2 separate regions of the Homo sapiens genome follow, and region 2 is linked to region 1. Evidence: fine-mapped expression QTL. A gene starts in region 1. The other region holds a variant in brackets. All regions are shown on one strand. Distances are between the middles of the regions. Region 1 holds the start of CALHM6 (calcium homeostasis modulator family member 6). Region 2 overlaps DSE (dermatan sulfate epimerase).

Region 1 (4,535 bases):
TTAATTTATTATTGTAACCCTATTAGAGTCATAAAATGCTCTAATTTTTGAATGACCACAGCAGGCTCGACTAGAAGCCCAATGTGCCATCAATTGTGCTATAGAACCAGCTAGAATGCCGTAATTTTAAAGTTCCTAACAAGATGTTGTGGGCAAGAAAATGAACTTGAAATTAACATCAGATAACCTAACAGAAATGTCTGAAGTTCAATTGTTCTGCCACTGTTTTTGCTCCAAAAGTCTTTTATTTGAAAAGGACTCTAGAACAAGGATATAAGACTTCTTTTAGTTCTAGCTTTTACTTTGGATGAATCACTTTCTTTTTTTGTTTGTTTTAAATAATATTATAAAGAGGTTAAGCTCTATATTTTAATTTCAGATATAAAATTCCACAATTTGGAAGAAAAAAAGCACTCAAAAAATACCAATGTTTATTTTTTAATAAAGCAATAATTCAAAACAATTTTTTTTTCTACTCATTCAAAAGGTCATAACTCAGGAGTGCTGTTTATACCAGATGAATCTACAAAGCCAAGAACAGGAATCACCGTATCTCCTTCAGTAGACCTGATACTGTGAGTCTTCTCTTTTCTGTTGACATATTTGTGCAACATGCTGTAGTACTGGCCCTTCGGATTGAAAGTATACAGTGATGAAATTTGCTGCCACTCTTTCATGCTTGGAGTGTTATATTCTTTTGGATGCGAGCCCTCAAAGAAACATTTAATATTCTCTTTTGCCAATTCAGTTGCATGCTCTGTGGCTTTACTTTTAAGGATCTGCTGCTCCTGTTCCAAATAGATTTTCCAGAATTTCAGCTGCAGAAAACTAACTGGAGATAGGCATCGGGTGACAGATGTAAAAATCAGAAGAATGATGATAACAACTGCTATCAAGATCCAGCCCAACACCTTAAGAAAACACAACAAAATAGTAATTTAGTTACTTGGTTTTTTACAAGAAATTTAAAAATCCTCAGATAAAGTTTCAACTACTCGCCAGTTATGATGATGAACAAGCAACAGTTTTAGGTCTTAATTCCTTAAGAGTAAGGTGTCGCAGTAACCTCCCTAGCCCCCCAGTACAACTTCTCGTTTGGAAAGTCAACTGTAGTCCAAGTTATGCACTATGATTCTGCCCAGGGAGGAGCCCATACCATTCCCTTAGAACTCAAAATGTGGAATTTCTGCAAATCCTGGGAAAGAAGTGTTCATTTTAAAGAACCTCTGAGCTTTCTAAGTCCAGTGGTGGCTTTAGAGCCAGACAAACCCATTTTATTCTATAGACCCCTTTAATTCTAACAATTCTGCTTTCTATTGGCTGGGCAAACAACTTTACTTAGACTCAGTGAAGTCACTATATAGGGGAGATACGAAACTATTACTTGTAATGGCAAAACCGCAATTTTGCACCCAACAGAGCTGTTGTGAGACGTAAAAATAATGCAGGAGGTCAAGGGCCTAGCGCAGTATCTGGCACTGAGTAGGCGTGCCCACTCTCACTCCCACTTTCCACGATTCATGTACAGTGCCAGATACTACGGGAATGCGTTTTTCTCCTTTTCATTCGTTTTATTCAGATATTCTCTTGACGGCAAATTAGATGCAAGGAGCCATTCTAGATTTTCTTAGGGTACTGTATATCTGGAGAAAAGTCACCGATTTTTCCCTCACCCCAGCGGCCCTGAGAAAGCTCGGCCTCTCGGCTCCTCCCAAACGCCCCCAGCGCCAGCGGCAGACCTGCGACTGAGCCTTCAGATCCTTCAGGAGGTCCTGCACGTCCGACGCCTTGGCCTGGTTGCACGGCACCAGCGGCAGCTCCGCGGCGCAGCTGCGGTTGCGGCCGAGGCACAGGCGCTGCGCGAAGGCCGCGCTCCCGGTGGCCGCGCACTCGTAAAAGGCGCCCCCGAGCAGCGCCACGGCCACCCAGGTGAGGGGCGCGAGCGCGGCGGCCGCGCTGATTTGCGTGCACACCAGGGAGCCGCGCAGCGCCGATCCGCAACTCGCGCGGGCGCTGGAGCAGCATCCGGTGAGCAGGCGCCACGTGCGTGCGCTCAGCACGTAGCCCAGGAGGAAGAGCGCGAGCGCCGGCACCAGCAAGAAGACCAGGCCGTAGGGCAGGTTCCAGGCGGCGCTGCACGGGCACTGGAATGCCACGGCGGAGAAGATGCGCTCCCCGCCCGCCGTCAGCAGGGTCACCAGGCCGTAGCCCAAGGCGCTGTGGTGCTTGACGTGCAGGTCCAGCACCGCCCGAAACTTCTCCATGAGCCTCGTCCCCCGGGGCGTCGCGCACAGGCCCAGATCCTTCTGCCTCTTCGTTGTCCTGCTTGTCAAATGGTTTTGGTGGGATGGGGACCGGGGCTTTCCACTCTGCGAGAAGCAGCCTTTTTTTTTTTTTTTTTAAAGGGAAGAGGGCTTCTCAGACCTTCCTAAAGTTTCACTTTCTCATTTCAGCCACACCACCTCTGGTTAACAGAACCAGGCAAGCAAACACCCCCAGGACCTTGACTTCTCTGGCACCCACCCCATTCCAAAGGCAGAGGCACCAGTTATCTTCCTCCCCCAATTCAGGAACTCTGACAGAAGGTTGACCTTGTTCCTTTATTACCACCAATCTGACAACGAACCAGGAAACTAACCTTCTTGACCCACGGCCGCCAGTTGGAAAAACTGGGAAATACCAGATTTTCCTCTATTGCAGCCACCCTAGTTACTAAGCCAGATCACAGTAAAACCAAATAATTATCAAAAAACTGATTACTTACGGGAAACATTATTCAAGGACAAATTTCTGGTTCCTCTTCCATAAGCTAAATCAGCAAAGTCCAGCTCAAGTTCTGGTACTTCTATGATGGGCGGCACCCTTTCCATCTCCCTACCGGACAGAGCCACCAGCCTAGTTCACACTGACTCTTCTCTCCTCTGCCTGATCTCCTTCAGGACATTAGACCAAATATACTGTATTGATTTACTCGTCAATACAATGTTCTTTTCTTTCAGATATGTCATAACACTGTCAATGCCTGGAGGAGAGTAAAATTCTGACTCTGACCACCAAGCTGATCTGCACAGAAGGGGATACATGATTATTCAAAGAATGCTAGTTGAACCCAAAATTTCAAACTGCAGCTACATCTATCTAATGTTGTTTCCTCCACCTTCAGTTTTCTCAAGCAGCGTTGTTCTGACACAAACACTGTAACCACTTTTGTGATATTGAGCCTTACTCTGTGTGACTCCAGACTGAGCTGAGGTGTGCTTGAAAGAACATGGGCTTTGAAGTCAAGTGCATCTTGTCTGTGGTGTGTTTAACAAGTATGCCCCTCTGAGACACAGCATCCTTATTTGTAAAAGAAGGATAATAGTGCCCACTTTTCAAGATTACTGACATGAGTAGATTGAGTAGCATATGTAAAGTGCCTTTACATATAGGATATGTCTGTTAAATGAATGATCAGTGTGAGAGTTTTCCCCTTAAAATGCAATTTGGGGAATAGACAACAAATAATTACATTGTACATAACCTAAGAATCTTGATGAATACTGAATTTTGAATTTTAAACGAGGATCAATTCAGTGGATAGTATTAAGTGACTCAATGACTCTGCTACCTTAAGAGAATTGGTGTACACCTTAGCTGTCTGCTTCACCACAAGGAGAGTATCTGGATATGGAGCTTGGGTGGGCAGTTCACAATGAAATGGTTCTTATTGGTGCCCATCCACCAGGCTTGCCTTATTTTATCTGGAAAGAATAGGTAGCCCATGGAACCAAGTGAATTTTTAGAGAATGGACAAGAAATGTATTATTCTTTTCTTAGTCCAACTTGCCTTCTTAACTACTCCCTCTCCAACACCACCAGCAGGGTGCCTAGCGTAGTGCCAAAAGCTGTCATTCCATAGTGATGTGGTAAATAGACATCTTTTTTCTATGTGTTTAGGGGCCAGCCCCAGATGAGGGTCTTCATGGTCATGCAGGAAAGTTGGGGCCCTCTTCTCTGAGATTAGACCAGATACTGCTAGGCTTCCTGTCAACTTGCAGCAAAGTTGCGTGTTTGAAGCGAATCACTTCTGCTCTGACTGTTATCTTTGTAATTTGTCATCTCCCAAGATAAATTTCTTCCCCTGTGCCTTGAGTAACTCTCCTCTTACTGCTGGACTCTTCTTCACCTCTACCATAATACTCTAAGATGTGTCCTCTCTCGTCCACCCTTTCCCATATTCCATCATGCAGAAACATCACTATATCCACAACCTTTGTGCAGATGGCTTTATCCAAATCTCCCCTAACCGAAACCTAATAAAAATGCATCCTTCTGTCTTCTTGAGTGAGATTAATTTATTCTCCCACATCTCTCAAACCAAGAGGGATGGCTGGCATTTTCCTGGTTACCTGCTGATAGCCATACCAGGGTTTTACCACTGTGCTATAATAGTTTATCATCCACTGAGGCTCAATCTAATCAGCACCATCTCCTCCTTCACCTCATTCCTATGGTCTGTTTTCATTCCCTTCATTTTTTAAGACTCTAATGAA
Region 2 (4,000 bases), 32 kb after region 1:
TACTAGGATGAATTGCAAAACAGGCCTCTCCTGCATGTCTAAGAAAAAGCAACAAAGCAGTATTTTTTTGAATGTAAGTCTAAACTAAATCTTAAAATGGTTCTTATGCTCTGCAATATTTTTGAATTAGTCCAATAATGGAGATTCTATTAATCTGTATGTATACTACCAGAGCCAAAAGATTTAAATACTATATTATTTGTTGTAGGTCTAGAATCACCATCTAAAAATTGCATTTCCTTGGGGAAGGGGGGGAATCTATCCTGATAAAATTTTCCTTTATAACTTGTTCTAACATCTTAGTCCTGTTTTAGAAATAAAAAAAGGTTACAAAGTTCTCTGGAAATGAATACATTATTAAATCATGTATATATTTTTTTTAGAGCTAGTTCTCTTAGAAGGCTAAATGACACAGCAATAAAGAAATTACAAGTTTTACAGCACTTTTTTTGTTTACTTTTCTATACTATTTACTTCAATAAAATATTACAATACTAAAGCTCCAACTTAAATGTGTAGGTGTAATCTTTCATTTTGAATCATGTCTGTATAGTTTGAAAGAAAAAACTGAAAACCAAAAATTAAAATAGGATTGATCAGGGATCACATATAAAGGAAAACTGACAGGTAATCACAAATGTTTATATTTTGCTTGCAATGATGAAGATGAGTTCGTATATTACTCAAGTTTGGATATATAAAAAAAAAGTATTGAGGGGCCTAGAAATTGTATTTAATCCATAACCCTCCAAACTTTATAATACCTAAATCATAAATACTCACATTAGCCTCCAAAATGTTCTGGCTATATGCAACTCTTGAATTCAATTTTTCTTTGATTAAAAAAATCTATTTAATTTCAATATGACAAACTCTAAGGACCTAATTTCTCTGCCTAGTCTAGCTCATTTTCATAATCAGAAAAAATTACAATAGTTTAATGTTTTCACACTTCTGACTCCTCACTATACCTGGCAGGATGGTTCTATACATAAATGCAAAGTGTTGTTTAAGCCACGGATGGCCAAAGTGGTTGATGTTGAAGTGCCTCTGGACGAGAAACATGTATTGGAAGAGTGATCTAGTGGTGTAGCTGCCATACGCAACTCCTTCATAGAGGGAGCCATCCGTCACCTCCCTGAGCAAGACCAGAGATTTCTCCATGATGGTCAGAACTTGTTTGGTCCATAAGTAGGCTTCTTGAAGATATCCTGAAGGATGAAAACACATGGAAGCAATGACTAAAGCCTGTGACAAAGCATAAACAAAAATATGGCCAATAAAACCCTCTGAGTTATCTAACTAGTTTATATTACAAATCGCGTTTTGTAAAACTCCAACTTGTCAGTGTATAAATAACATCTTGTAATCCAGGTTGTGACAGTCCATGATGTAAGTTAGGAAGTTCTTCCTGGCTAATATGGTGAAACACTGTCTCCACTAAAATTACAAAAAATTAGCCGGGTGTGGTGGCAGATGCCTGTAGTCCCAGCTACTTGGGGGGCTGAGGAAGGAGAATGGTGTGAACCCGGGAGGTGGAGCTTGCAGTGAGCGGAGATCGCGCCACTGCACTCCAGCCAGGGCGACAAAGCGAGACTCCGTCTCAAAAAAAAAAAAAGTTATTGACTCTATAAATGAAGAGAAACCCTTAAATGAGTATCAGTCACTTTCCAGTCTTTAATAAACTGTATCACATGTAAGATCACAAATGCATATAACTTTATGTTGGCAAGAGAGGATTTGTATATTAAGATTTTTATTCAGTGTTCCTAAAAATATAATACTTGAAAATATTTTTAAAAGTTTATCTCTTTGTGAAACTTGCATCATTATTTTATAGAATTTGTAATAGGCTGCACATATTATAAACGCTAAACGGACAGTCTTCAATTTGTATTGTCATTAGAAGGTAACCTCTTATCCTTTATGTGCTTTTCCACAGGATCTGAAAAGGCAGCACAGTGGGGCTGAGAAACCACTGGAAAGGCAAACTAATAATGAAAAATCAACTAGGAATCCTGAATCTGCCAAAAAATGAGCTACATGATTTTGTCCAAGCAATTCTTCCATCTGTCACATTTTAATCTCCCCACTGAAAATTAAGTCTATAACAAGTTATAAAACCTTTTAACTCAGAAATG[C/G]TAGCTTTCTAGAACTGTTGCACTTAGTTGACAATAACAACTCCTCATATTTCTTTTTTTTTTTTTTTTTTTGAGACGGAGTCTCGCTCTGTGGCCCAGACGGGAGTGCAGTGGCGCAATCTCGGCTCACTGCAAGCTCCGCCTCCCGGGTTCACGCCATTCTCCTGCCTCAGCCTCCCGAGTAGCTGGGACTGCAGGCGCCCGCCATCACGCCCGGCTAATTTTTTTTTTGTATTTTTAGTAGAGACGGGGTTTCACCGTGTTAGCCAGGATGGTCTCGATCTCCTGACCTCGTGATCCGCCCGCCTCGGCCTCCCAAAGTGCTGGGATTACAAGCGTGAGCCACCGCGCCCGGCCAACTCCTCATATTTCTATAACATTTATAACTTACACAGCACTGAACAGAATCTTAGTTAATCCTTTTAACAACCCAATTATGTATCATTGCCCCAAAACAGAAACGCTGACTTGTTCAAGACCTCTGGCACATGACTAAAAATGAACACAACTTTAATCTCAACCTAGGTCTTTAGATTTAAGGTTTTCCTTTAAAACACGCAACCCTTGAGAATAAAATTAAGCCCAATGCCTCCTGGTGTGGGTGTAGCCACATTGCTTTACTTCCACAAACATGTTGACCACGCTACCATGGCCTACTATGTGGCAGGTGTGGGGCTTCCAGAGGCCCAGATCTAACCAGCTCTGGGCCTAAATATAGGTCCCAGGCTAAGACTTGGCTCCTGACTAATGGGGGCAATGCAGCTGTCAGGCTTGGGTATGCAGAGGTGACTGATCATCATACCCTGGCCTCTTCTGCCACCCAGCATCATACCTGATATGTCAATATTCTGGATAGTTTTCAATTTCCATTCTCTACCATTCTGGTTTAAAATTCTAATTATCTTCATCCTTTTCCTGTGTGTCTTCCATCTCCCACCAGATACCAATGTGACTGATGCCTAAAATCAGATCACTGTTCCCAGGATACCACATTACCTAAATTTCCTTATTTGTTCCTTACAACAACCCTCTTCAGAAGACATGAGGCAATGTCTACCAAAATACTTTGTAAACTGCAACTCTCTGTGAATACAAGGTACTGATACTGTTAATTGAAGCTATACCCTGTATTTTTTTTCTGCCACCCGAATACCTTGCCTGGAATGTTTTTTAATTTCCCCTTAAGTTCTCCTATCCATCTTCAAAGTTACATGAAGAAAATTACTGAAAGAACACTGCTTTCTTGAATTCCAAGTTAATATACTCATTTTATATTTAACCATAACGCTTTTCATGGTATCTTTTATTTCACTCTCTGGGGTTACTGTAACTATGGTGTAATCATTTAAACATTTCACACCTGTCTTCTTTCCAACTGATTTCTACCTCCTTCTGTCTAGTCTTGTCATAAATGTGTGTACTTATGTGGGGGCTCTGGAAGAGTGTCTGCCAGGGCCACCATAACTTTAATCAGAAAATAAATGCATAGGAAAATTCCTGCCAGGGCAAAATGACATATTTTGATTCAATCCAAACCAGTATTTTGGGTCACTGCTTATTATTTGGAATAATGTTATTTACAAAGACTGAAGAAATAAACTCTACTCCTTCCCTTAAATAAATAAAAATTTATTTAAGGAAATAAAACTATAGTAGCTTAAATTTAAGACCTGAAGCAGAAATTTGGCTCACCTAAGGGATCCTTTCACCATTTCATGATGGTGTCTTTTCACAGGCCTGGGGCTTTATAAATGGTTTGTTAGTGGATTCTCACATTGTTTGCATTTTGATGTTTTAATTTTCTTTTCCTTTCTATTTTATTTATTTATTTCTTTAAGGCTGAGTCTCACTCTGTTGCC

Evidence for each region. PIP is the estimated chance that this variant, and not a neighbour inherited with it, causes the effect.
Region 2: its variant is the best candidate, but not a certain one, in a credible set for the expression of CALHM6 in nasal epithelium (TOPMed, PIP 0.66).

The regions. Positions count from the first base shown.
Region 1 is chr6:116,459,659-116,464,193 of GRCh38, reverse strand. It overlaps CALHM6 (calcium homeostasis modulator family member 6), which reads right to left and starts at 2,819. Exons shown (of 3, transcript NM_001010919.3): 1 at 2,765-2,819; 2 at 1,740-2,322; 3 at 423-911. The coding sequence starts at 2,264. The coding sequence ends at 489. CALHM6-AS1 (CALHM6 antisense RNA 1) reads left to right here and starts at 490. Exons shown (of 2, transcript NR_174951.1): 1 at 490-575; 2 at 3,000-3,716. RefSeq lists a silencer at 1,754-1,833 and enhancers at 2,214-2,293, 2,304-2,413.
Region 2 is chr6:116,428,165-116,432,164 of GRCh38, reverse strand. DSE (dermatan sulfate epimerase) reads right to left here. Exons shown (of 6, transcript NM_013352.4): 4 at 972-1,211. Among named protein-coding and RNA genes, the nearest start is that of CALHM6, 31 kb to the left of the region's middle. The variant C/G (reference allele first, on the strand shown) is at 2,142.